Homo sapiens: one gene and its partners. The protein of the gene in region 2 interacts with the protein of the main gene of each other region in a pairwise test. Each region holds a gene or a part of one and is shown on either strand. Other genes may lie near its edges.

The links.
Region 1: the proteins of MANBAL (region 2) and CACNA1A interact in a two-hybrid assay, tested with the Homo sapiens proteins (one study listed by BioGRID and IntAct).
Region 3: the proteins of MANBAL (region 2) and SCRG1 interact in binary tests that used the Homo sapiens proteins (3 or more experiments, as listed by UniProt).

Annotation. Positions count from the first base shown.
Region 1 is NC_000019.10:13,502,754-13,511,376, forward strand, and holds the start of CACNA1A (voltage-dependent P/Q-type calcium channel subunit alpha-1A), read right to left. Parts: upstream 3,727-8,623; 5' UTR 3,472-3,726; coding exon 3,179-3,471; intron 1-3,178.
Region 2 is NC_000020.11:37,299,419-37,307,311, reverse strand, and holds part of MANBAL (protein MANBAL), read right to left. Parts: intron 6,142-7,893; exon of another isoform or gene 6,105-6,141; 5' UTR 6,049-6,104; coding exon 5,899-6,048; intron 5,033-5,898; coding exon of another isoform or gene 5,012-5,032; exon of another isoform or gene 2,751-5,011; intron 1-2,750.
Region 3 is NC_000004.12:173,395,669-173,404,314, forward strand, and holds the start of SCRG1 (scrapie-responsive protein 1 precursor), read right to left. Parts: upstream 3,449-8,646; 5' UTR 3,400-3,448; exon of another isoform or gene 1,674-3,399; intron 1-1,673.

The DNA of each region.
Region 1 (8,623 bases), on a different chromosome or scaffold from region 2:
CCCACTGAGGGATGAAAGAGGAAGAAATCATAGTGACAAATTGCCCCGAGTGTGGAGAAAGCAAGACTGCATCCTTCACCAGTGTACCATGCCAGAATTTACATTTGGAAGTAGCACTCTTAGGCCCTGTGAGCATACCGACAAGTTCATGGATCATTCACTCACTTCTCTTAAACAAGACAGGGAGGAACCTGCTTTCCATATCGACCTGCAACCCTTAGTCAACACCATTTCCAAATACACATCCCACAACACATGCATCAAAAAGTAGCAGGGGCGATTCCACTCCTATCTAAGAGAACTGTGGGAAAAAAATAATAGAAGACACAAGAATGTTCCCAGTGGCACAAACAGAAATGACACAAATGCCCATCAACAGTAGAATGGATAGATTGTAGTAGAGTCACATACACAGATGTGAGCAAAAGAAGCCAGTGGCAAAAGAACGTACTGTGTGACTCCATTTACATGTTTAAAAGAGGCAAAATGAACCTTAGAAGTCAGGTGAGCGGTACCCTTGTTGGGGGAGCAACTAGGAGGCGGTATGGGGAGGGGGACTTCCAGGGCACTGATCGGGACCTGGGTGCTGGATACGTGGGTGTGTTCATTTTGTAAAAATCTATGCATCTGAATATATGTACTTGCCTGTACATATATTAGACTTTATTTAAGTACCTACACACTTTTTTTTTCACTCTCAGGATATGCTGAAACATTTTTTTTTAATGGCAGAAATATTTAGATTAAAAAGTAGAATGTTCTGCCCTGGTATCGTGACTCTGACATTCCACGTGTCTTTCTCTTTACACTGGCCTGAATTCTTTTATTCACTACCTCCCTCCCCAGGTCTCTGTCCATCCCCTCTCATCTCCAACCCTCCCACCCACCCCGCCACCGCCCTCCGCTCCATCCAGGACAGAGAAAGCTCAGTCCTGGATGACCCAGCTCGATGACAGATTGTGAGGTGGGGAGTTTTCCCTTCCAGAGTAGGGCTGTATAATGTGTTTGTTACCTCGGGTCAAAGAGAACAAAAACAGTCTGCAGAGAGCATAATGCACAAACTCATCATAAGAGCAAGAAAGCCCCGGGCGAGCTGGCCAGAGAATAGATGAAGTGGCAAGCAACACTCGCAATTCACCTGCCTCCCTCTCCCACGATTCCCCCTTCCGAGGGGCCACTGCAATCCCCCTCTCCCCCAACAGCCCTCCAATCTGCAGGATTCAGGCTGGACAGAGGTAAGCTAAGGACACAGCAGAAGGGCTCCCCACCTCCTTCCTTTCCTCTTAGAAGTCTCCAAATCCAGGCTCCAGAAGGCGATCTAAAGCCATTTTCAATGAGGAAACCTGTCAGCCGAGCAAAGCCCTCTCACTCCTGGAGCTAACTGGGTGTGCACCCATGAATACCCTGTCCTCCTGCAAGGCACTCCCACTCCTCACTCTGTTGATAGGCAGAGTAATCAAGCCACCCCTGAGCACTTCAATGGGCCTGGGATGGTGAGGAATTGCTAACCTTAAGAACCAGCCTCTTTAAGAGTCTGAAACTTAGGAAGCAAAGACCTGGCACCTGCTTTGGGCACCAACGGAGATGGCATCGTAGTTAGAGGTATGCTCCCCTCAAAAGCACCTCTGCTGAACTTCTTAATTTTCCCCACCCTCAAAGTAGACCACTCACACACTCCAAAACCTCAGTGCCCTCTGTTGCAATCCCAGCACCCAGGATCCAAGCGCCAGGCTCGATTTTGAACCCCCCTGAAGTGAGTCCCTCTACCACCCGCCATGCTCCTCAAACAGCAACCCCCGGAGACCACACAGGGCCCAGCCCCGTTTAGTCTATAACTGCAAAACCACATACAAAAGGGATAGGGGACTCATCGCTGAGCCCCAGGGACCCATCCAGCCCGTTCATTTTTACACAGAGGGCAGCTGGTTGGAACTGTGCGGAGAAGCGGCACATCTGGGCATGGCACAGTGGCCAGCCAGCCTGGGCAGCAGGGTGTGTCCCCCCTCCTGGAATCTGGGTCATGCTTAGATAACTGCTAGAAAGCCCGACTAATTACCCACCCTTGCCTGCCTACATCTCGATAGATGTTAAGCCCTCCTCAAGGTTTATTTCAAGCAGGCAGGGATTTAAAGAAACACAGAAGATCTGCATTTTGATAGCATCTCCACAGAAGAAAATGTGGGCTTCACCTTTTTCCTCTGGATCTTTGATTAAAAAAAAAAAAATTTAAAAGGCATTTACCTACCTAAGATGTCCACATGGGTGCTGATTCTCCTGGTGTTCCCTCTCGGCTACTCGGGGTAGGAAAAGCTGGACATGGTGCTCTAAAATGGACCCACCACCTCATTTGCTGTTGCCCTGTCTTTCTTACTGAAAGTGTCCAGATCAGGTCTTCCCAGGCCAGGGGCCCAGATAAAGCAAGTGGGATCTCTTTCTCGACACCCCCAAAGATGATGAGGTTCCCCAATCAGCGGTTAAAGGCAATGGGACCTGCACACATGAGGGAAACATAAGCGCCCCCCAGCCCATCACTATCCTCTCCAGATAGGAACAGCGGCCCACCCTGGGGTACTCACTTCGGCCAGTGCTGGCTTCTCAGTGTGAAGGCCACATGGACTCCCTCTTGCTCTTAGCCCTGGGAGCCCCCAAGCGCCCTGCCCTAAAAGTGCGGCGGCCCCCCACCTTGGGGAAAGCAGTAGTGGAGAGGCTGTCCAGCTTCCCCTGCGTGGACTCCAGTGAGCGACGGCCAAGAAAACCCAACCAAGGCCCCCATAGTTCCCCTGCCCTGGCCAGAAGCGCCCAGGCCCGAGCCCGCTCCAAGCTCACTCCGTAGAACTCCAAACCCTCCGGACTTGGCTCGAAAGCCCCCACCAAGGCTCCTGCACGACCCCAGGCCCCAGATCTCATTCTAGAGTCGGTCCTTGGGAAGGATCCACTCTCCGCTGCCCACCCCCCAGCCCCCCACAAACCCATTCCCAAGCCTCCAGGGTAGCTCAACCCAGCTCGGGGTGGAGAGATTCTTTCACACTCCTCCCGGTGCCCCCTCTCCCAGCCCCTGGAAGACCCCCCTCCTCCCCACCTCCCATCAACCCCCGGGTCTCTCTCCCAGCCTGGAAGAGGGGAGGCGGAGGGAGGAGGGGGAGGCGCAGCTGCTGCTGGGGTTCGGGCAAAAGGATATGGCCATTCGGTGATCTTTTTGGCGTATTTTCTCACCACGTTGTCTTCGCTGAAGAGGAAGAGAGACCGGTTAACCGTGAGGCAGTTCTGTCGGACGGGGATGGGGTTGTAGAGTGCCATGGTCCGCGCTCTCTGCGCCATTGACTGCTTGTACATCCTTTGCGCCCCGGGCTGCCCGCCCTGCCGGCTGCCCCCGGCTCCTCGCCCGCCTCCGCTGCCCACGACCACCCCGGCGGCTGCCCCGGAGCCTCCTCCCCCGTAGCGGGCCGGCATCTCGTCTCCGAAGCGGGCCATTCTGCAAAGAGCAAAGGGCTCCGGGTTACGCTGCGGCGAACGATGCGGAAGACGCCGCCGCCGCCGCCGCCGCCGCTGATGCTGAGGCTGCCGGGGCTGGGAGCGCGGCGGCTGGAGCTACGACTGCGGAGACGCTCCACGGCCCAGCCCATCGGGCGGCGGCGGCTCGGCGCCTCGGGTCGGGGGCTCAGAAGGCGGCTGCCCGGGCCGAGCCGGGGATAGCAGCTCGGGACATCTTCCTGGCTGACCCCGGAGAAGGAGGGGCGGGAGGAGGGTGCGGGGGCGGGGCGCGGGGGCCCGGGGAGGAGGGGGGAGGGGAGAGAGAAGCGAGGCAAAAAATAACCGAGGAAGGAATCCAGGCAATCCCCAGTCCACCCACTCCGGAAAAAAAAAAAAAGAGACAGTTAAAAAAAAAAAATCCACCCAACGCACACCCCCTTTAAGACGCGAACGGTTTGCAAAGGACGCCCCCCCCGGGACGCAGTGGAAGCTTCAAATTCCTCCGAGGTCCGGGTCAGGCTGGCATCTTGCAAAAGGAGTGCGCTCGGCCCATTAAAAAAAAATAAAAAATAAAAAATAAAAAAATATATATATATTTAAAAATAAAGAAAGACGAAACCCAGGTCTGGGTGGGGAGGGCAAAAAAAAAAAAAAAAAAAATTAAGTGCCCTTCTGTTTTGCTGGAGTTCCTAGACCTTAAAAATGCTGAAAGATCTGTAGCTCCAAAAATAAAATAAAATAAAAACAAAGAAGATGAAAGGGAAGGGAAAGAGGAGGGAAGGGGAGTAAGACGCTCCAGAGGGTTCCTAAGGAGTCTTCACACCGCAGGGTCCAGGTTTAAAAAAAAAAAAAAAAATTTTTTTTCTTCCTGAATCACCAACGGCTGCCTCTTCTGCTCCCGGAGGAAGTGTGAGTGTGTATGTGCGCACAGCGTTTCGCTCAATGGTGCCTCATCTTGGGGTTAAATTGCAGCAGTGAAATCCTGAAAATTCCCAACAGGGGGAAAAGAGAGAGAGAGAGAGGTATGCGCCCTCCGCTTAGCCACTCAATAGCTGCCCCTGGATGCGGCAATGCCTCTCCACCCTCCAAATCCCTCCACCTCCTCCTTCTCTAGGTTTTGCTAAAATAAGACTGGTGTGGAGGGTTGCGGGTAGAAGAAGGTAAAGAGGAAAAAAAAATGGGCGCAAAGGTCTGAACCACTGGCCAGCAAACGGAAAAGGGGAGCAATTGATGAGTTTAACAGTAGAAGGACCCACCCAGAGTGTCGACACATGAGGGCCCGCGACCAATCGTGGAGGCTCGTGGAGGCGCGGGGGTACCGGGCTCAGCGGAGTTTGTGGGGGAGAGAGGGGAGCGTCGCATGGTTGGGAGGCAGGGAGGGGGGAATTGGGGTGCTTCCTCCTCCCCTGGGAGGAAAGCCTGTTTTCCACCCCGTTCCATTTCGGTTGCAGACAGCCGGACGCTCCCCAGCATCTTGCAAGGAGAAGGCAGGATGGAGGCAGGAAAAAAACTTAAAAGACAGAAAAGAGAAGGGGATTTGTGTCTAGAGGTGCGATTCGTCAGTCTCTAAACAAATTTGCTCTGTTTAGCAAAAGACCATTTTTGAAAGTGGAGAGAGTGGTTTGGGGTTACTTCTGTGAACGTTTCAAATCACAAGGACTCCTGCAAGTTGGAATTAAAGGTTTATTCTACCTTGGAGACCCCAGAGGTGACAAGTCTGAACTCCCAGGAGGAAATAATTAACCAGGTCCTAGTTGGCTGGATAGGGGTTCTGGGTGGTATAGTTTGCTTGATACTCACGTCTCTCCAGAACCACTTTGATTACTTCCCATTCTGCTTTTTGTGTGGTGAAATTCAATAAGCACAAAGAAAAATGCATAAAACATAAAGGTACGGAGTTAAGAAATTGGTCTGAAATGAACACTCATGAAATCAAGTCTAGGGCTAGAAATGGAACATCACCACCTCTGCAGAACCCCCTTTGCCAACACGCTTACACAGCCCCTTATTCCAGCAATAATCGCTACCTGACTTTATGGTATTCATATCTTGCTTTTTTAAAAAAAGTTTGACTACCTTATTATGCGTTCCTAACCAATACAATTTTACTTTGCTTCTTTTGGGCTTTTATATAAATGGAATAATCATATAGTATATATTCTACAGTTTCTTGTTTCTTCGGTTCAACATTATGTCTTTAAGATTCATCTGGCAGGGCACGGTGTCTGCGCCTGTAATCCCAGCACTTTGGGAGGCAGAGCATGAGGATTGCTTGAGGCCAGGGGTTTGAGACAAGCCTGGGCAATATAGCAAGACCCTGTCTCTCCAAAAACCTTTTTTAAAATAAAAATTAACCAGGCATGGTGATGTGAACCTAGTCCCAGCTACTTAGGAGGCTGAGATGGGAAGATCCCTTGAGTCCAGGATGTTGCAGTGAGCCAAGATCAAACCACTGCCCTCCAGCCTGGGCAACAAAGTGAGACTCTGTCAAACAAAACAAAACAAAACAAAAACAAACAAACAAAAAAAACAAGATTCATACATCCTAATCTGTTTCGAATTTTAGAAAAATTCACCTGTTTGTTGTCACACATGGCTGTGATTCATTCACTTTCACTGCTGTATAGTATTTCATCAAGAGAATATGCCACAATTTGTTTATCCATCATCTTGTTGATGGGTATCTGTTTTTTTTCCAGTTGGGGCTATTAAACATTACTGCCTCAGGTACCTTTGGTGCAGATAAGAATGCATGTCTCTAGGAATAGCCTTAGGTGTGGAATGTCTGGGTCCACAAGGTATTCATATCTTCAAGCTTATAAGATGTCATCAAACTGTCTTGCAAATTCAATGTACCAAGAAACCATTGAATTTTCATGGAGCTTGTATACGCAGAAAGGCCAAATGGAGAGGAATGGGAAAAGGATGAAAAAGGCAAATATTCTTTCAAGCCTTAGCTAGTTAAATCCTAGTTAATTCCCTTCCCCCCTCGCCACCCCACACACACATATCAATATTCGAGTTCTTTTGGAACACTCTGGAAAGATGATATGTCTTTATATAAAGTCCCCGTTCTGTGCCAATGCACCAACTATTATACATTGCCCCATAGCACTTTCAAGATTTTCTAACTTGTCACGATATGGATGAAATGATTAAACCAAGAGTGATTGGAATTGCAAGGAGATAGAATTGTGTGGGATTCAGGGAGAAGGAGGGGCTTTTAAGGCGCTCACCAAATATCAGTGATTTTTGTACTTGACATTGTTTCAGATATAAAAGGTGAACAGCAACTAATATGAAACAAGAAGCGAGCCCATGTGTTCAGATGGGAAGAACCAGTCATATGAGAGGAGCTGAGTTGAACTTATCATTTGTTCTGATGGACCTCTCTGAGAAGATTATTCAGTTTTAGAGCAGGAGCATTACCTGCATAGATCTGTGAAGACCCCAGAGTTTTTCAGGAAAGAGTGACATCTCACTGATGGAGCTCCTGCCAGGGTAAATCTCCCACTGAGTCTTCACAGCAGCCCCGTGGAACAGATGCAAACACTGAGGGTGAGGGAGACTTAAAAACTTTCCCAAGGTCACTAACGTGGATCTGAACCCATTTCTGACTCTTGTATTCTGTTGGACAGAGGGGAATTTGGTACAACCACTTTGGAAAACCGTTGGCTGGGTGCAGTGGCTCACATCTGTAATCCTAGTATTTTGGTGGGCAGAGGCAGGAGGACTGCTTGAGCCCAGGAGTTCAAGAGCAGCCTGGGCAACATAGTGAGACCCTGCCTCTACAAAAGGAAGGAAGGAAGGAAGGGAGGGAGGGAGGGAGGGAGGGAGGGGGGAGGGAAAGAAAGAGAGAAAGAAAAGAGAAGAAAGAGAGAAAGAAAAGAAAGAGAAAGAAAGAAAAGAAAAAAGAAAAGAAAAGGTCAGGAAATAAATAAATTAGTTGAGCATGGTGGTGCATGCCTATAGTCCCAGCTACTGGGGAGGCCAAAGTGGGAGGATTGTGTGAGCCCAGGAGTTTGAGGCTGCAATGAGCCAAGATCATGCACTCCAGTGTGGGAGACAGTCAAGTCTCAAAAAACAAACAACGACAACAAACACATAAAAAGAAAAACTTTTTGGTCATTTCTATTAACATGGCCATTTGAGTATCCTATGACCCAACAATGTCACTCCTGGGTATACACCCAGGAGAAATGAGGATATATGCCCTAGAATGTGCAGCACTATTCATACTTGCTAAAAGTTGGAAATTTCCAAAATACCGTAATGGATAAATACACTGTAGAACATGGAATTTTATGCAGCAATAAGAAAGGACAATATGGAGCTACACACAGGTGCATGGATGAATTTTACAAACTCCATGCTGAACCCAAGAAGACAGACACAGAACAGAACATGGTGTATAATTCCTGTTATATAAAGTTTAAAAAAAAATGGTGCACACCTGTAGTCCCAGGTATCCTGATTCCCAGCTACTCTGGAGGCCAAGACAGGAGGATGGCTTGAGCCCAGGAATTCGAGGCTTGCAGTGAGCTACATGATCTGTGCTCCAGCCCGGGCGACAGAGTGAGACCCAATCTCTTCTTTTAAAAAATTAAATAAGTAAATAATAACATTAAAAAATGAGCAACACTGATCACCTTTAGAAGTCAAAGGAGTAGTCGCTTTGAGGGTAAAGGGATACATTCTGGAAGCATCTCCATCTGGGTGACAGTGGCATGGGTGTGCTCACTTTTTAAGTTTTGTTCATTTTGTACCTTTTCACTGAGCTGCACGTGACTGATTTGTGCAGTTTTGTGTGTGCTGCCTACTTAAATAAAAAATATTTGTAGGCTGGGCATGGTGGCTCAAGACTATAATCCCAGCACTTTGGGAGGCCAAGGTGGGCAGATCACCTGAGGCCAGGAGTTCGAGACCAGCCTGGCCAACATGGTAAAACCCTGTCTCTACTTAAAATGCAAAAATTAGCCGGGCATGCTGGTGCATGCCTGTAATCCCAGCTACTCGGGAGGCTGAGGCAAGAGAATCACTTGAATCCAGGAGGCGGAGGTTGCAGTGAGCTGAGATCATGCCACTGCACTCCAACCTGGGTGACAGAGTGAGACTCTGTCTCAAAAAAAAAAAAAAAAATTCGTGATGCTCC
Region 2 (7,893 bases):
GCTGCATATTACAATCACCTGGACACTTTAAAAAAATACTGATCCAAGCCGGGCACACTGGCTCATGCCTGTAATCCCATCACTTTGGGAGGCCAAGGTGAGAGAATCACCTGAGCCCAGGAGTTCAAGACCAGCCTGGGCAACATAGTGAAACCGTGTCTCTACAAAAAAATTATTTAAAAATTAGCCAGGTGTGGTGGAGCACACCTGTAGTCCCAGCTACTGAGGAGGCAGAGGACGGGAGGATCACTTGAGTCCAGGTCGAGACTGCAGTGAGCTACGATTGTGCCACTGCACTCCAGCCTAGGCAATAGAGCAAGACCCTGTCTCAAAAACATAAATAAAAAGAAAATACTGATCCAAGGCTTCAGAGAACAACTGAATCAGAATCTCTGGGTGTGGTCTAGGCCTTTGAAAGTTCCCCAGATGGTTCTATGTGCAGCCTTGTGGAGAATCATTGGCCAGTCCAAGGACCGGCACTGTCATTCTCTAATCCCAGCTCACAGCAAACAGACATCATTGATCAATTTCTTTCCTCCAGAGCAAAGCAGCAGCCCCCAGAATCCTTTTCACCATGGCCACCAAGCAATTGATCAGACTTGGCATGAGAGATGAAACTTACCAGCTAACCTGGACTAGATGGAAATGGTACTAGGACCTACTATCTTCTATTTTAGAATCCAGCCTACAAGAAAATGCTTGGATTAAGTGTGGCCCACGCCTCCATCAGGCTCAAACAAATGTTTGTTTTCTTAGGTCTGAGTTTAATGAGTTGCCAATGAGAAAACCTTTTCATTTGGCTTACGATTCTAGGGACTTGGTTTTTGATTTTACAAATTGACTCTTGCTCCTACTATGAAAAGGAAGGGGGTGGGGTGGGAAGCATTTGTATGTGTTCCCTCTTTTCCTCCCTGATTAACCCCAAAAGAGCTTTCAAATAATCTGCTAAGTATTGAAATACTGAAGTCATAAGCAAGTTGCAAAAAATCGGCTTACTAGAACAGGAAACATTCTTTTGCTTTTCAAAGGCTTTCCCATCATCTGGAGCCAAAAATATTATCTTCTGACCCAAAAAGCCACTAATAAACCCTGTTTCTATAGGCTAAGCAAGAGGGAAGATTTTGCCCTGAGCAAAACGGCAAAGAGGGCAAGACTGTTCTCTGGGTCCTCCCACCCTCACTTCTGCCCCCTCTCCTACCTCCTGCCACCCTCCACTTCCAGGTATCTCCCAACTGCCCTCTGGCTGCCTAGTGTCTTACAAGCTGCCCCCACTCCCATGGGCTCCCTTTCTCCCTAAGAGTACCCCGTCCCCATGTTAAAACCCCCTTCTTTCCCCTCCAAACTCCTTCCAAATCTCAGCTATTAGGGACAACCTCTAAGCAGCACAGTCTCAGCATCCACCCTCTCTTTGTAATCCTGTTTATGCACAGAATGCTGTGTTTCCTTTCTATCTAGTTAGGAGTTTCGGAAGTGAGAAAGGCTGCCTTATGGAGACACACAGAGAGCTAGCGACAGAACCCCCTGTATAACCTGGGGCCATTTGCTCCCCTGATGCGCCAGTAAAAAGTTAGATCAACAGTACTGTATTTTTTTGCTACTGATCCATTGAAAAGCTAAAAAAAAAAAAAAAAAGTTAAAACAGTAAGCTTCAGTTATGAAGACAATTTACTTGTGTGAGCCTTGTTTCCCTAAATGCAAGATTAATAAAAATGAGAGATGTCATGTACTATATTTAAATTTAAAAACATGAGGTTGTTGTCCAAAAGTAACCTCTAAATGGCAGTGGGTAGGGGGGTATGATGGCATATTTTTGAACCCTTCATCAACTCCCTGCCTCAAAAGACTTTAACGCACTATCCCACTGAAAATCTTAAAGAGAACAATAAAGGGGCTCCTTTTCTGAAGTTTGCTGAACTAACCCAGGCTTCTGTGGCTTACTTCTAAGGGCTTCAAACACAACAGGAGGTGAGCAGCCTCCCTGCTCTCCAAACAGCCACACACCTCTGCCTATAAAACAAGAAGGCTCATCACCTCCCTCCCTCGGGACTCTTAGCAGGCCTCATCAGCCACCAACAACCACATTTGTTATTTATAATACCGAATAGCATGCCACGTCTGCAGGGACAGAGCCCAGGAGCACAGAGGTGATGTTTTTAAAATGCGATACAATTGTGGGTGGAAGAACGCCAATAGTGATCTCCTTCTCAAGATACCAGAATAAGAGATGGACAAGACAACCTAGAGGCCACGAACCCATCCCTGTTCACCAAGGTTTTCCCACCCTTGCTGGCTGCTCCTCCCCTGCCTGTGCCCTCTATGCTGGAGCCCCTCCAGCTCTGGCCTAGGTCCTCTTCTCATCTCCCTCCACATTCTCTCCTTAGGAGACCCTGTCCCCTGCCGTGGCTTCAAATGACATCGTATCAACTCCCACATGCTGGTCAACACTCAGCCCATGCACTCCTCCTGCTAGAGACCTTGTAAATCCACCGGCTTTTTTGACAGAACCACCCAGACATGTTAAAGTATCTGTTTAAAACTGAACTTGGCATGTTCCTTCCCTGCACCCACCCTAAGCCTGTTCCTTCACCATAGTTCTCCACTGCATCAATAGGTTCCACATTGTATCAGTAATTCCCCATCATCCTCCCAGCTACAGAAGCAGCATCTCCAGGAACAGTGATATCCAAGATATATGGATCTCCAGAACATATTGCGTATGTTAAGTGAAAAAAGAAAGTTGCAAAACTGTGTTTAATAGTATGCTATCTTTTATTTAATGAAGGGGGGAATATAAATATATATGTACACACCATACACATATATATGCATTTGTTACTGTTTTCAAAAAGAAACAAAGGAAAGATAAACTAATAACAACTGTTAACTATGTGGGAAGGAAGGGAATAGGGTGGAGGAGAATGAGATTAAAGGAAACTTCTGTAAATGTACCTTGTTATATAGTTTTGACTTTGAGAAATATTGTATATAAATGTTTTATATAATTAAAACAACAAATTAAATCAAAATTTTAAAAATCTCTAAAAATTAAAAACAGATTGAAGCAAATTAACCAAACTATATCTCATGATGGGAGACCTACACAGAGAAAAATAGTTACTAAACACAACATTTTGACCTTGTATCTCCACAAAGACATATTTTAAGGCCAAAAAAGAATCACAAAGAAGTCTTAAATTTCATTCTGAGTCTTAGTAGTAAAAAATATAGTTATTTTAAAAGTGTAACTGGTATATTGTAGATGAGCAGAATAAAGTTAATATAAATTGCTAATCTTAGAGAAGCATGCTTGCAAGGTTGGCCCTTGACTGGCATCTGGGAACTTGGATTCCAGGTGGTTCTCACAATTCCCAGAAATGATAAGAGTGGCTCACCACGCCTATACTGTGTAAACAATAAGGTTCATGCTGAACACCTGCTTGCTTTCTGGAAGTCTGGAATTTTGGTACATGCTAGGCCAAGGGTGCTTCTGTAACCAGTCCTCAGTAAGAGATGTGGGCACTGAGTCTCTAACTCACTTCCCTGCTAGATAACACTTCACACACATTGCCACAAATCCTTCCTGTGGGTATCCAATGGGAGAGCACTCAGACGCCTGCGCCTGTTTCCTCCAGTCTCTGCCCCATGTACCTTTTCCCTGTGCCGCCATACCTGGTATCCTTTCACTGCCACAGCTGAGAGTCCTAGTGCATCACTGAACCTGGGGTGGTCCTGGGGACCTCAGATTCAGTAGGATCTAGCAGATACATCATTTTGTTAATGTTATTGAGAACAAGATTTCCAGCATAAGATAAAGAGTTACAAGACACTAGTATAAAATCAAATAAATAGAAACACTATCACCTTACATTTGAATTGGAAATACCAGTATGAACTCACAACTTTTTCATTTCTTAAAAAATGTTTATTTTCTATTTCTGTTTATTGAAAGGCCTAGATGCAATCACAGCTCAGTAGCACTGAAAACTTCTAATGTCCCAACTGTAGCCTCTAGATACTATTTTCTAGCTAAAAAGAACCAGAGCATTTTAGAGAAATGACTGATTCCAAGACTGGGGCAGGAAATGTACAAAATGAGCCTGGGGCCAGGCGCAGTGGCTCATGCCTATAATTCCAGCACTTTGGGAGCTCAAGGCAAGTGGATGGCTTGAGCCCAAGAGTTTGTGACCAGCCTGGGCAACATGGCAAAACCGTGTCTCTACTAAAAATACAAAAATTAGCCAGCCATGGTGGCACACCTGTAGTCCCAGCTACTTGGGAGGCTGAAGCAGGAGAATTGCTTGAACTTGGGAGACAGAGATTGCAGTGAGCTGTGATTGTGCCACTGCACTCCAGCCTGGGCAACAGACAAGACCCTGTCTCGCACACACACAAAAAAGAGCCTGTGACATCTTATTGAACCATGAAGCAAGGAAGCTATCAAAGACTAATGAAGTATGACAAAGAACAAAGACATCAACTTAAAGGGGCTCCCACTGAACATAAAAAACAAATTAATGGCAGATAAGTGCCCTCAAAAAAAAAAAACTAAAACATATTAAATATATTAAAAATATGTTCAGAATGCTATGAAAACCAAAGCTTCATTGGTCATCATTGGAAGTTGCTAGAGTCTGAACTCACAACTTTGAAAATTGATAAATAAAGGGAAAGAACCAAGCATTTTTCCTGCTTTTCATTATGAAGAGCAATTCAGAGTAATCATACAAGTGATAAGGAAAAGGTCTTTGTTAAAGAATTCCAGCTAACAGATGCAGAAGGAAATAATGGATCTAAGCAACGACCATCAATGGATGCTAAAACCGCTTAGGTGAAAGACTGACCGGATTTTTATAATGGAGGGATCAGCTGATACCACCTAAACCCACCGATCAATCCAAGAATCTCTAAATGTGCAGCAGCCAGACACCACCTGCTTGTTGATGCCACACAGTAGGGAGTACATAGCACCAGCTCTGAGGTATTCGTACCCAATAACCTGACTGGAATGGAATCAGGCCTCTACATGGAACTCCTGTTGACAGGAAACACAGGGAACAGAGAAACACGTTAAATGACACCACAGAGAAGCAATAGCCAATTCCTGGGATGTAGGTATCCCACATGACAAACGACCTGCTTTCTCCAATAAATCAATGTCACGAGCAAATGGGAGTGGGCAAGAAAGTGGGTAGAAGGAGGGTGTATAGTTATAAAGATACTTACAGAAGAAGAGTCAAAACAACAACAAAAAAGCCAATTTGACCATGTCATTCTCACACTTAAAACCCTCTGGCCCCTGCCCACACCTCTGGCTGCACCACTCATCATGCCCCCTCTGTGCTCTGGCCACAGTCACCTTCATTCAGTTCCTTGAATTAGCCCCTTCCTTTATTGAGTCCCTTGCACGTGCAGTGCCCTCTCCCTGGAATGTTGTCCTCGCCCCTTGCCCACTTTCACCTGGCAGAAGCCTGCTCATTCCTTCAGTCTCAGCTCAAACACTGCCTCCTCGGCAGGGCCCACAGCCCAGGGTAAGATCAGGTCTCTCTCCCCCTTGTTATATAGCCTCACTGGACTCTGTACTTCTCATGGGAGCACATGGAGGTATGTTTTTGTTATCTGCCTTCCTCCCAAGGACTAGATGCTCCTCAGGTGCAGACACTACATCTTCAGCAGAGTCTGAAATGTAGTAGGCACTAAATAAAAATCTCCTTAATGGGTACATGAACAAATAAAGTATTAGCTATGTGGTTCAACCCACCAGGTGGAAATTCAGAGGCACACTAAATCAAAAAGGCCCAATGTAGACCCTGCTGATCTCAGTTGTGGTGGCACCTACTGTTAGTACTCAGAACCCAGCCTGGCACTCAGAGGAGCTGAGGCTCCCAGGGAAAAACTCACCGCCTCGTGGGACTTGGGAATGGGTACGATGATGGCCAGCACACAGATGAGCTGGAAGATGGCTCCCAGGAAGAGTCCGTACCGTAGCAGGTTCTCCAGGAAAGTGGGCTCGGGCACCTCCGGAGGTGAGAAGTCTAGGTCAGAGGCCATGGCCCAAGTCGCTTGCTGCCTGACGTCTCTTCTGACTCACCACTCTTTAGAACCAACTTGTAAATGCAAAGGGTCAGTGTCATATTTCTGTAACTGACATTTATTTATTTATTTATTTATTTATTTATGAGATGGAGTCTCACTCTGTCGCCCAGGCTGGAGTGCAATGGCATGATCACTGCAACTTCGGCCTCCTGGGTTCAAGTGATTCTCTTGCCTTGGCCTCCCGAGTAGCTGGGATTACAGGTGTGGGCCAACACACCTGGATGATTTTTGTATTTTTAGTAGAGACAGGGTTTCACCACGTTGGCCACGCTGGTCTTGAACTCCTGACCTCAGGTGATCTGCCCGCCTCAGCCTCCCAAAGTGCTGGGATTGCAGGTGTGAGCCACCTCACCCAGCCTGTAACTGACTTTTAACTTGAACACACACACACACACCCAAGAATATATACAGGAATTGTGAAATGTTAACAACTCTTGAATCTAAGTTGGGAACATATGGTCAGTCAATGAACCATTCTTTCAACTTTTCTGTGTATCTGATGTTTTCCAAACATAAAGTTGAGAAAAATAAATAAATGCAAAGGGAAGCACTTCAACAAAAATCTCAAATCAACATACATTTACTAAAGGCTGCTACGTTTCAGGTTTTGTTGTTTATTTATTCATGTAGTCATCCATTCAACAAATATTTCTTGAATACCAAGCACTGAAGAATGAGCAAAACAGACAAACCCCTGCTTTCTTGGAGCCTCTACATGCTCAGGATGGAAGCAGACAATGAACACGTCGAGATGTGATATGCCAGGTAGTGATAAGCATTTTGGAAAAAACTTAAGGGCATCATTTTATTTTGTGATGAGAAGGCTCTCTCTGAAGAACAGAGACGGGAATGGAGTGGAAGAGATAAGAAGTGAGAGAGGGAGCCATTTGTGTATCTGAGGGAAACACGTTCCAGGCAGGGAAAAAAGCAAGTGTGGAGGCCCCAGGGTGGGGAAATGAGGCCAGTACAGGCAGAGAAGTGATCAGGAGGGAGGGTGGAAGGAGGTATGATCAGAGAGGAGTGGGGGCGGACCCTGATACCTCCAATTTGATTGAGTAAAATGTAAAGCCACTGAAGGGTTTTGAGCAGAAAAGTGACATGATCTGACTTCCATTTTTAAATGGAGGAGGGACAACAAGGGGAGAGGCAAAGTGGACACAGGGAGAGCCAGGAGGAGGCCCCTGCCAATAAGCCAGACAAGAGCTGCTGATGGCGTGAATGACAGGGGCAGTGGTGGCCAGTGGTGCAAGGTCCAGCCTCAGCCCAGCTCTCCAGCCTCTCCTCTCAGCAGGGCCCCCACTCCTAATATCCTAGTCAAGCTGAAAGAACTGCTGTGGTTCTCCAAGAGCACTGGGCTCTTTCAAAATCCTGGGCCTCTGCCCAAGCTGCATACTCTGCAAAGAATGTCCTTTCCCACTGTGACTGCTTGACAAAGCCCCCACTCTGCCTCTAAGGCTGAGCTCAAGTGTCATCTCCCCAACATGCCTCTCCTGTCACCCTCCTCTTCCCCTGGCATGACTGAACTGCTCCCCCTTTACCACAGCACCCATCAGTGGCTTTCTTCTGCCCATCCCAATGATAAAGGGGCAAATTTACTTTGGAACCAGGCCCACTTGAATCTAAAACCCTTTGTGTTTCCAGAGATCTGTGCCACAATGCAATATTTTGCTAAGTCTGAGCTATCCAATATGGTGGCCATGAGCCACACATGACTATTAAGACTTGAAACGCAGCTAGTTTGAATTGAGATGCTAATTACACACCCATTTTCAAAGACCTAGTATGAAAATAAGAATGTAA
Region 3 (8,646 bases), on a different chromosome or scaffold from region 2:
CAAAGCACTTATATATAATCTGGCCTACAAGAACTGTGAATTTGAGTAAATAATGCCTTGTCATTGTCAGCATTTTTATAAGCTGGTTAACCATTTGGAGAATATGACTACAATTGGATATGGGGAGTGGGAAATTCATAGAGCTGATTAATTATTTAGTGAATTGGTTATTATGTGAATTTACCTACAGCCAAGAAGGAAGATTGGGAACAATCATAAAGGGCCTAGAAGATATGATAAAGAGTTTAGATTTTATTGAGTATATTAAGAAGCCATTGGAAGATTTTGACAGAACAGTAGCATGATCTGATTTATGCCTTTTTAAAAAAATCCCTGGCTGGCCTGTGAAGATGTATTGTGGTGGGACAAGATTGGAAATAGAAGAAAACAGGCTTTTGGTGAGAACTGATGGGATATATGAAGCAAGAGGGAAAGAATCAAGGATGACTCTTGGGCTTTTGGCTTGAATGGTGTTGTCATTTGTTGAACTGAGGAAGAATTGGAAGGAGCCAATTTTGGGGGGAATCCAGAAATGAGTTTTTAGACAAGTTAGGTTTGAGATGCCTGTTAGATATTAAAGTGAAGATGTTGAGTAGGCAGTTGAATGTGAGTCTAAAGATCAGGGGTGAAAATACAAATTTGAGAGTAATCAGGATATTTATTGATAGTATCTATAGCTATGGGTCTGGCAGGGCAGTAAAGGTAGATCCAGAAGAGATGAGGCAAAGGGCTGAGGCCCAGGGCAATTCAATATTCAGAGGACTAGAAGAGGAGATGCCAGCATCAAGGCAGCAAGGACTGTAACTTCTACTTCTTTTGTATTGAAGCAGAGTGCCTGCTTCAATGCTGAGCTCACAGTAAGTGTTGAAAAAATTTCCTTCAGTGAAATGAACAAATAAATTGCTGGTAAAATAAGTAAGTAAATTGCCATACCACATACCTCTTCTGTGTTCATGCCAGAGCATAAGATCATTTTTTTGCCACAGTCTAAGTCGCATACTACAATGGAAAGTTCCACACCTAGCAAGTACCTACTGGTAGTTTTGTGTGTGTGTGTGTGTGTGTGTGTGTGTGTGTGTGTATGCATTATAAATTACATGTTTTGGCCCAGCACAGTGGCTCACACCTGTAATCCCAGCACTCTGGGAGGCCGAGGCGGGCAGATCACGAGGTCAAGAGATTGAGACCATGTTGGCCAACATGGTGAAACCCCATCTCTACTAAAAATACAAAAATTAGCTGAGAGTGGTGTCATGTGACTGTAGTCCCAGCTACTCAGGAGGCTGAGGCAGGAGAATCACTTGAACCGCGGAGGCAGAGGTTGCAGTGAGCCGAGATTGCACCACTGCACTCCAGCCTGCGCGATGGAGCCAGACTCCGTCTCAAAAAAATGAAATAAAATAAAACAAAATAAAATAAAATAAATTACATGTCTTAAATGCAGACTTCTCTTCTTCCTTTACTTAAGTACAGATAAATAGCTTTAACTATTATTTAGCAAATGGAAAAATTTCTGACCCAGTGTGTTCCTGGGATACATTGGTTGTTGTTTCATTAAAGGATACCAAACTTAATCCTTGGCAATCCATCAAAACCATATATGTTCAAGTGCCAACAAGAGTGAAATGATTTTGGCCAATTTGAAGAAAATTGGTCTTTTTTTTTTCTTTTTCAGTTGAGGTACATGTACTTAAAATCCCTCCTGGAATACACCCAAATTACAAAAGAAAACAAAGTTACCTACTAAAAATTAGAAGGAGTGAGCAAGAGAAGCTTAGGTAGTTATCCATTTTTTTAATTCGATTTTATGTAATTAACATTGTTCCAAATGTTGTATGATACCATTTATATCCTAATAGTGTTGTAAGTTTTAATAGATCATTGCAGAGGATACAGGATTATGAGCAAGACATTTCCAACTAAACAATAAATCATTGCTACCATCCTTTGGTAGGGAGTTGCAAATTTTGATTCTGTCTGAGGGCATTTAGCACAAGCAAGCTTTTGAATGGCTGGAGCTAAATGGAGACTTAAAAAGAAAAATTATCCCATTTAATTGCCAAAACTAACAGGACCATGCAGTTTAAGTGTTCAGACATTTATGGTGCAAATGCTCATACAGGCAGCTGATGTCAGTTCTGGGAACTGGTATTAAGAGCAGTGGCATGAAACAGAGTTGATGAATTAGACAGAAAAGACAGTCCATTTTCGGATTGCTTTCAAAAAAGCAGCAAGAGAGAAGCAAAGCTGCAAAAGCAAATGAAAACTCCAGCCCAGAACTTGACATTTGAAATATCAAAATTATAGTTGGGAGAGATTAAAATTGCTGCCCAGTCTGTGATGTTTTCCACTCATCTCTCTTGGAGGATGAAAATCACTGTTTTTTTAAAGTTCTCTTTTTTTCTTATTAGCTGCCTTAGAAGACGTTTTTGTTAGAATGACTGAGTCCTTAGAAAATGTTTTTGTTAGAATGACTGAGTCCCAAAGTGAAATTTCCCAAAGTATGTGTTAAAGAACAGAAGCAGTATTAAAAAGTGAATAAGCTGCTTAAAGATCCTTAAAACAGACATATCATCTTAAATATCTAAGATACCTTCATCCATAGAAAAACAAAATCCACATCCTCCCTAAAAGTGATCAGGCTTTTAGAGCATGCCAGAAGATGATATTAATATTCAGTCTTGCATCATTCTCCTTCTTTTCCTGGACACAGTAAATCATCATCACTGGAGAAAAGGACCAGCATTTGGGAGAGCTTTTCATAGCCTGTGTAATTAAGTTAAGGAATTTTAAAGAGGAATTTTTCTAAGTCTCAGAGGGAAAAAGTGTTCTCTTTATATTAGCAGTACAGACACTGTTGTGTTCCAAGAATGGACACCAAGGATGAATTCAATGAATTCCCTCTTTGTATCACACATTTGTACCAGGTTCTTTTCAGAAATCAGGATTTTTAAAAGCAAAAAACATTTTCTTTCTTAGATGTTGCAGTTAACTTCATGTAGTGTAGGTAATATAGCTGCTGCATTTAAAACAATCCTATATACTTTATCATCCTCACATAGTTCTGAGGACTGGGATAAGTCCTGTTGTGTGGGACAACATTCAGAGTAAATTTGGGCATTAAATAAATGATAGTGAAGAATCTGCCTCTTTTTAAACCTGTAATGAAATGACTTTCCTAGTCAAGAAATATACATTTTCTGTTCTTTTTTAATCTGATTATTTGCCTTTCTACTAGGAAGCATCATATTTTTCAAAGTGCCTGCATCATCTCCTCAGAGGATCTCTGTCTTTCTCTTCTGACTCAACACATACATACATTTCTGCTCTAATCTACAGTAATACTTTGGAGTAGAACAACTGACATAAGATGTTTTTTATAGAGAAAAAATTACATACCTTTTTCTTCTTTCCTTTTGGTCTTGGCAGAGGATGCTTCTTAAATGCTCACACTCACTGGGTGAGTTTGGGCAAAAGGAGAAGAGAGGAGGTGCTGGAAGGAGCTTCTTTACAAATGAACCTTTGTCTGCCTTGTCTCTGGCCTGGGATCGACAGACTCGCTGCTCCAGCCAGGACTGTGGGGAGGAGGGGAGTGGAAGGAGACAAGGCTGCAAGGACTGCCTCCTTTGGAAGTGTTCAGTTTGTTCCAAACCAGGCGAGAACGAATAGAACAGCTTCTTTACAGAGGGAAATAACTAGTCTATACAAGAACCTCAGGGAGGCAGACTCTGGTAGCAATAAAACATAAAACCTGAGGGATTTTAAAAGAACACAGAGTGATTTTTCCCTTAAGAAAAGTGTGTGTGTGTGTGTGTGTGTGTGTTTGTGTGTCTGTGTGTGAGAGAGAGAGAGAGAGAGAAGAGGAAAGTGGGGAATGGCTAGCTGCGCACCTCTTCCCCTTTCACAGTTTTCCTAGCCATCTAGATCTGTTACAAAATCCTGGTAGAAGATACGTTCCAATTCACCTTCCATTTCTCACCCAAAGACTCATTAGTAGTCAATGGAAAGCTAAAATGATGACTAAAAAGAAATGTATTCTGTGCCTTAGAAATAAAAGCACAAAAGAAATTTTATTCTGTTTTCAGCAAACTATACTGGAATTCTAGCATCTGTTAACTGTTGTTTAGGTTTTTAAAAAATTCGATTAGGAGTAGTGTTTTGGGAATTAGAGATATTATATTGTAATGGAGTTGGAATTATCTAGACAGACAATTGAGGCAAGGGCATTCCAGGTTGAATTACAAAGGCATGAAGGTGAAAAAGAGGGTGACAACTTCGGAGATTATAGGTGGTTTCATTTGGCTAAAACCAAAGGTGGTAGGAGATGAAATTTGAGAGACAAGAAGCAGCAAATTGATGAATTACCTCATATGCCATGCTAAAAAAATTGTTTTTATCGTGAAGATGAATGGAAAGATGATGAAAACATATTAAAAAGGATGAAAAGCCTGACTGCAGTGTGAAAGAAGGATGGTTTCCTGGGAGGAAAGGAGACTAAAGACAGAAAATACCGGCTTTTGCTGTAGTCCAGAAGGGAAGATAGGAAGGAAAACTGAAAAGACCTGATGACCACTTAAGTGTTTATGTTTAGCATAGAGATAGGAAATTTTATTAACTTTCAAAGGCTTGGGCCTTTGGACGATGATACTGTTAATCATCTAGAAAAAGGATATAAAAGGAATAACTGTTATTCATCTAGGAAAAAGAATACAAAAGTTTTGGCTGGAGGAGGAGTGGGAAAATAGAAATGAGTTAGTTGGTGAACGTTGAGTTTAAGGAACCCTAAATACAGTTGAGAATGTTTAGTAGGCAGTTGGTTAAATAGACCTAGAGCTTAGGAAAAAGCCTGGTCTAGAGAATTAGTTCATCAACCAATCAACTCAATATCAAATAATCTCAACTAAATAACTAATGCAGGTATTCAACTAAATGATAGCCGAAGTCATGGTTGTACCACTAAGAAGTTACTGTGCTCTTACTGTGTGCCAGGCATTTCATACGTCTGAACTCGTTCACTCTCCTTCCAACCCTATGAAGTAGGTACTATTATTAGTCCCATTTTATAAACGAGGGGAACATCAGAGATGTCAGGTAACCTGCCCCAAATCACACACACAGCCAGAAAATGGCGAGACCCTGGCAGTGTGTTTCTAGTGTCTTTGTTTCCCACCATTATGCTGTACTGCCCCTTAGAATAGATTATAAAGTTCATGATACGACTGAGAGCAGAATTATTCAAGGAATGGGCAGAGAACTGGGAAGGAAACTGAGAAGAGGTAGCCAAAGAAGTAGGGGAAAATTAGGAGAGTGTCATCATGGAAGTTAAAGGAAGAGTATTTCAAGAGAATGGAGGTGAATGGAAGGCTGCTAATGACAGCAGTGCTGGGAGAACAACACGTGCACACCCTGATATGAAGGTAGGCAGAGCAAAGAGAAGGTCAATACAACCAGAAGCAGTTCCAGCCCTGACAGAGATCAAATCTCTGCTTGGTCTCCATTTCGCTGAAACTGGAGCAAGTGGCATGGACCTCAGGAAGGGAGATGAGAGGTGTGTGCGCAATGGACTGCACATTTCCTTTGCATATTTATAAACAAGTCTGCTGTGATTCTTACTAAATAAAGATGATGCCATACACAGATGGAGTTAATTTGTTTGCATGATTTAAATGTATATAAATATGTGAATATGAGGAGGAAAATGGAAACTAGCCTTTATTCCACTTTAAGAGCTATCCGTCCTGTTTACCTCAGGTAGATCTAAACAGAGGTATGGTGCCAAGGCAAATCAACATTCCCTGTAGATGGATCCTCTCTTTACTCTGTTTTACTCTTATTTCCCTGTGTGTCTAATTCTGTCTAAATTTCCCTTATTGTGTTGCTTATTTTGTCTCCTTGTGTCTGAATTCATAGCTGCTCAAAATAGTTGATTCATTTTTATATTCAGCAACACTGAAATCCATACAATATGCTTGGCATTGTGCTTATGAATGCTGCCTGTAAGTGGTACACAGCAGCTCTTGGTAATGATCTAATCATCTCTGGATCATGTTCTGAGCCACTTAGGAAAGTTTTCCCCTAAGAAGCACATTTGGACCCTGGCCTCCAAATCCCTTGTGTTTTCAAACATGTGTTTATTACTAGCTGGACTTCCTATCATTTCTAGGAAGAATCATTAAACAATATCAAACTTATAATTGCTTGTCATTCATCCTGATGTCCATTACATGGGGATGTCCTTTTGAGAAGGAGTTCAATTCCAAACCAAGGCCTGCAATCACAGAGTCTGCCTTTGTGGTTTTTAATTTGTGGCTCAAATCTGAAACCACTCTTTGTTTTCCTGTAAATGGAGCCTTAAGGCCTTTTAGTTTTCTTTCCTGATGGGCTGTTACTCAGACCTCTTATCGAACCCGCTTTATGTTGCTCTGAAGACCACCTGTTTCTTTGAGACGGCCTCAGGAGCCTCCCAAAGTGAATCTTTTATGTGACATAGAGCTTCTATTTTAAGTAAAACCATCCAAATGTAATGTACAGATTTCCAGAAAATATGTCCAGCTATGTATTTTTATGTGATGATGATGACGATGGTGATGATGATGTGTGTGTTTATTTCTATAGGTATATGTTATCACTCTTAGGTGCAGTCAGGTTTGTTAGAAATAGAAAATCCTCACAAATTAGTGATAAGACCAATTCGTGAGTAGAGAAACATTTTATACAGAATTTAAGCAATTACATTCAAAGTACTGAAATTAAATTTGTAAAGAGACCTAATTAGTATTTCTTTTTAAAAAAAAAAAAACCTCCCAAAATTGAAAAATTGAGAAAAACACCAAAAAACAGCAAAATCCTTCCAATCAGGTGAAGTCTGAAGAGATGTCTCAGATATAAATAATTTCAGATATCAGACATCTTAAGCTTGTGAGAGAAAAAAAATGGAACATGCATTAGTTCTTCCTCTGATGTCCACCTGGGAGCTCATGCATTCACCCTAATTTAGAATCTGCTGCTCCTCTGTTCCATGATTGACCCCTTTCTCTCATTTCCCTCAGGCTTGACTCCTTCTGGGCTCACCAAGGCTGGCAGTATGGGGAGAAGCAGCAGCTGGTTTCGGCCTTCACAGCTCACATCTTCCCAGGAGAGAGGTAGGACTTTTTTTATGTGAGTATCCTTGACAAAAGGAGCCTCAAAATAATTGCACTTATTGAAAACTAACTCACAATATGCTTGTTGAAATGGTGATGAACTGCGACAAAATCACCTCTTAAAACTACCTTTAAAATCTTTCATCAGTTAAAAAGAAACAAGCTATTTTACTAACTTATTTTTGAACTCAGTAAAAGAGTTTCCTCTTTGATTACAACTATATAAAGTTTCCCTTAAGATATCCACTGAACCTTGGACATTTATGCTTAGAATTGTTTTTGAAAGTGGGTTGAACAACATAACCTCTATTACCCAAACTTAGCTTTATGTTGCTGAAGTGAGACTCAGGAAAACAGGTTCTACTGAGGAATCGTCAGTAAGGCCCTTGAAGAGACAGCAGAATCACCAAGTAGCTGTTGTGTAAGAGGGTGAACTGATGCCACCTCCCCTGCAGGGAGAGAAATGCTTCCATGAGGTATTCATATTGGAATGCAATTTCGATGGTATGATGTACTTGGGAATGGCTAGGATTCCCAGATGGGCAACCCTGGCTATAATGGGGATAGCCAGGAGAGTCTTCTTGATCAAATGCTTTTAGTCAGAATATCAAACACAAGCTCTCTTTTCCCTGGGCATAGAGAGTAAGGCACCCACCTTCGTCTGCGCCGCCCCGGGAATGCTGGGCTTTTTAACAGAATTGATACATAGAGACTGTAAGGTTACTCATGTAACCATGAGTAACATGATTTTCAATGCTGCAGAAATAAAGTCAGAAAAATGAACATCAGGAGAGACCTGTGTCCAAGAAAACTATCCACTTTTAGGAGCCCATGGAATAGTTAGAATGAATGGTAATGTTAATATGAAAATAAACTTTGGCAAGAAAAGAGGCCAAGAAGGAAAGGAACATGAAAATAACCTTTTTAGTTTCCTGGCAGTCTCTAAGGGGCATTGGACTGGTCCATGGAATCACAGCCCAGAGCCTAGCAATAATTTTATGATTTATTGGAGACAACCTACTCACTTACCAAACCTAGAAAGATGGAAAGATTGACTAAGTGTGTCAACGTGTATTCTTTCGTAGGTCCTGAGTTATTGCCCTAATCTTCTCAAAGCTGTTTCACAGACACAAGCATCTGGTGAGTTGATAATGTTAATGATAATAGCAATGATACTAGTAATAATAATGCTATTAACTGCATTGCCAAGTGTGCTAAACATTTTGCAAATGTTGTCTTATTTAGTACACGCAACTTACTTACATGAGGTAGTTTCCAGATGGGGGAACTGGGGTTCAAAAAAATTAAGCACTTGGCCAAGATCACACAGCTGATAAGTAGTGGAGCACAAACTGGAAACCAAGACAAAACTGTGCTCTTAGCCTGCTGCCACAATAAATAGCAAAAGAAATAGAATGAGAAATTGGAGAACCTAAAACAACAGTACCTTTTTAAAAAATTGTAGCCCATAATTTGAATGTGCATGAATCACACCTGCTCTCTG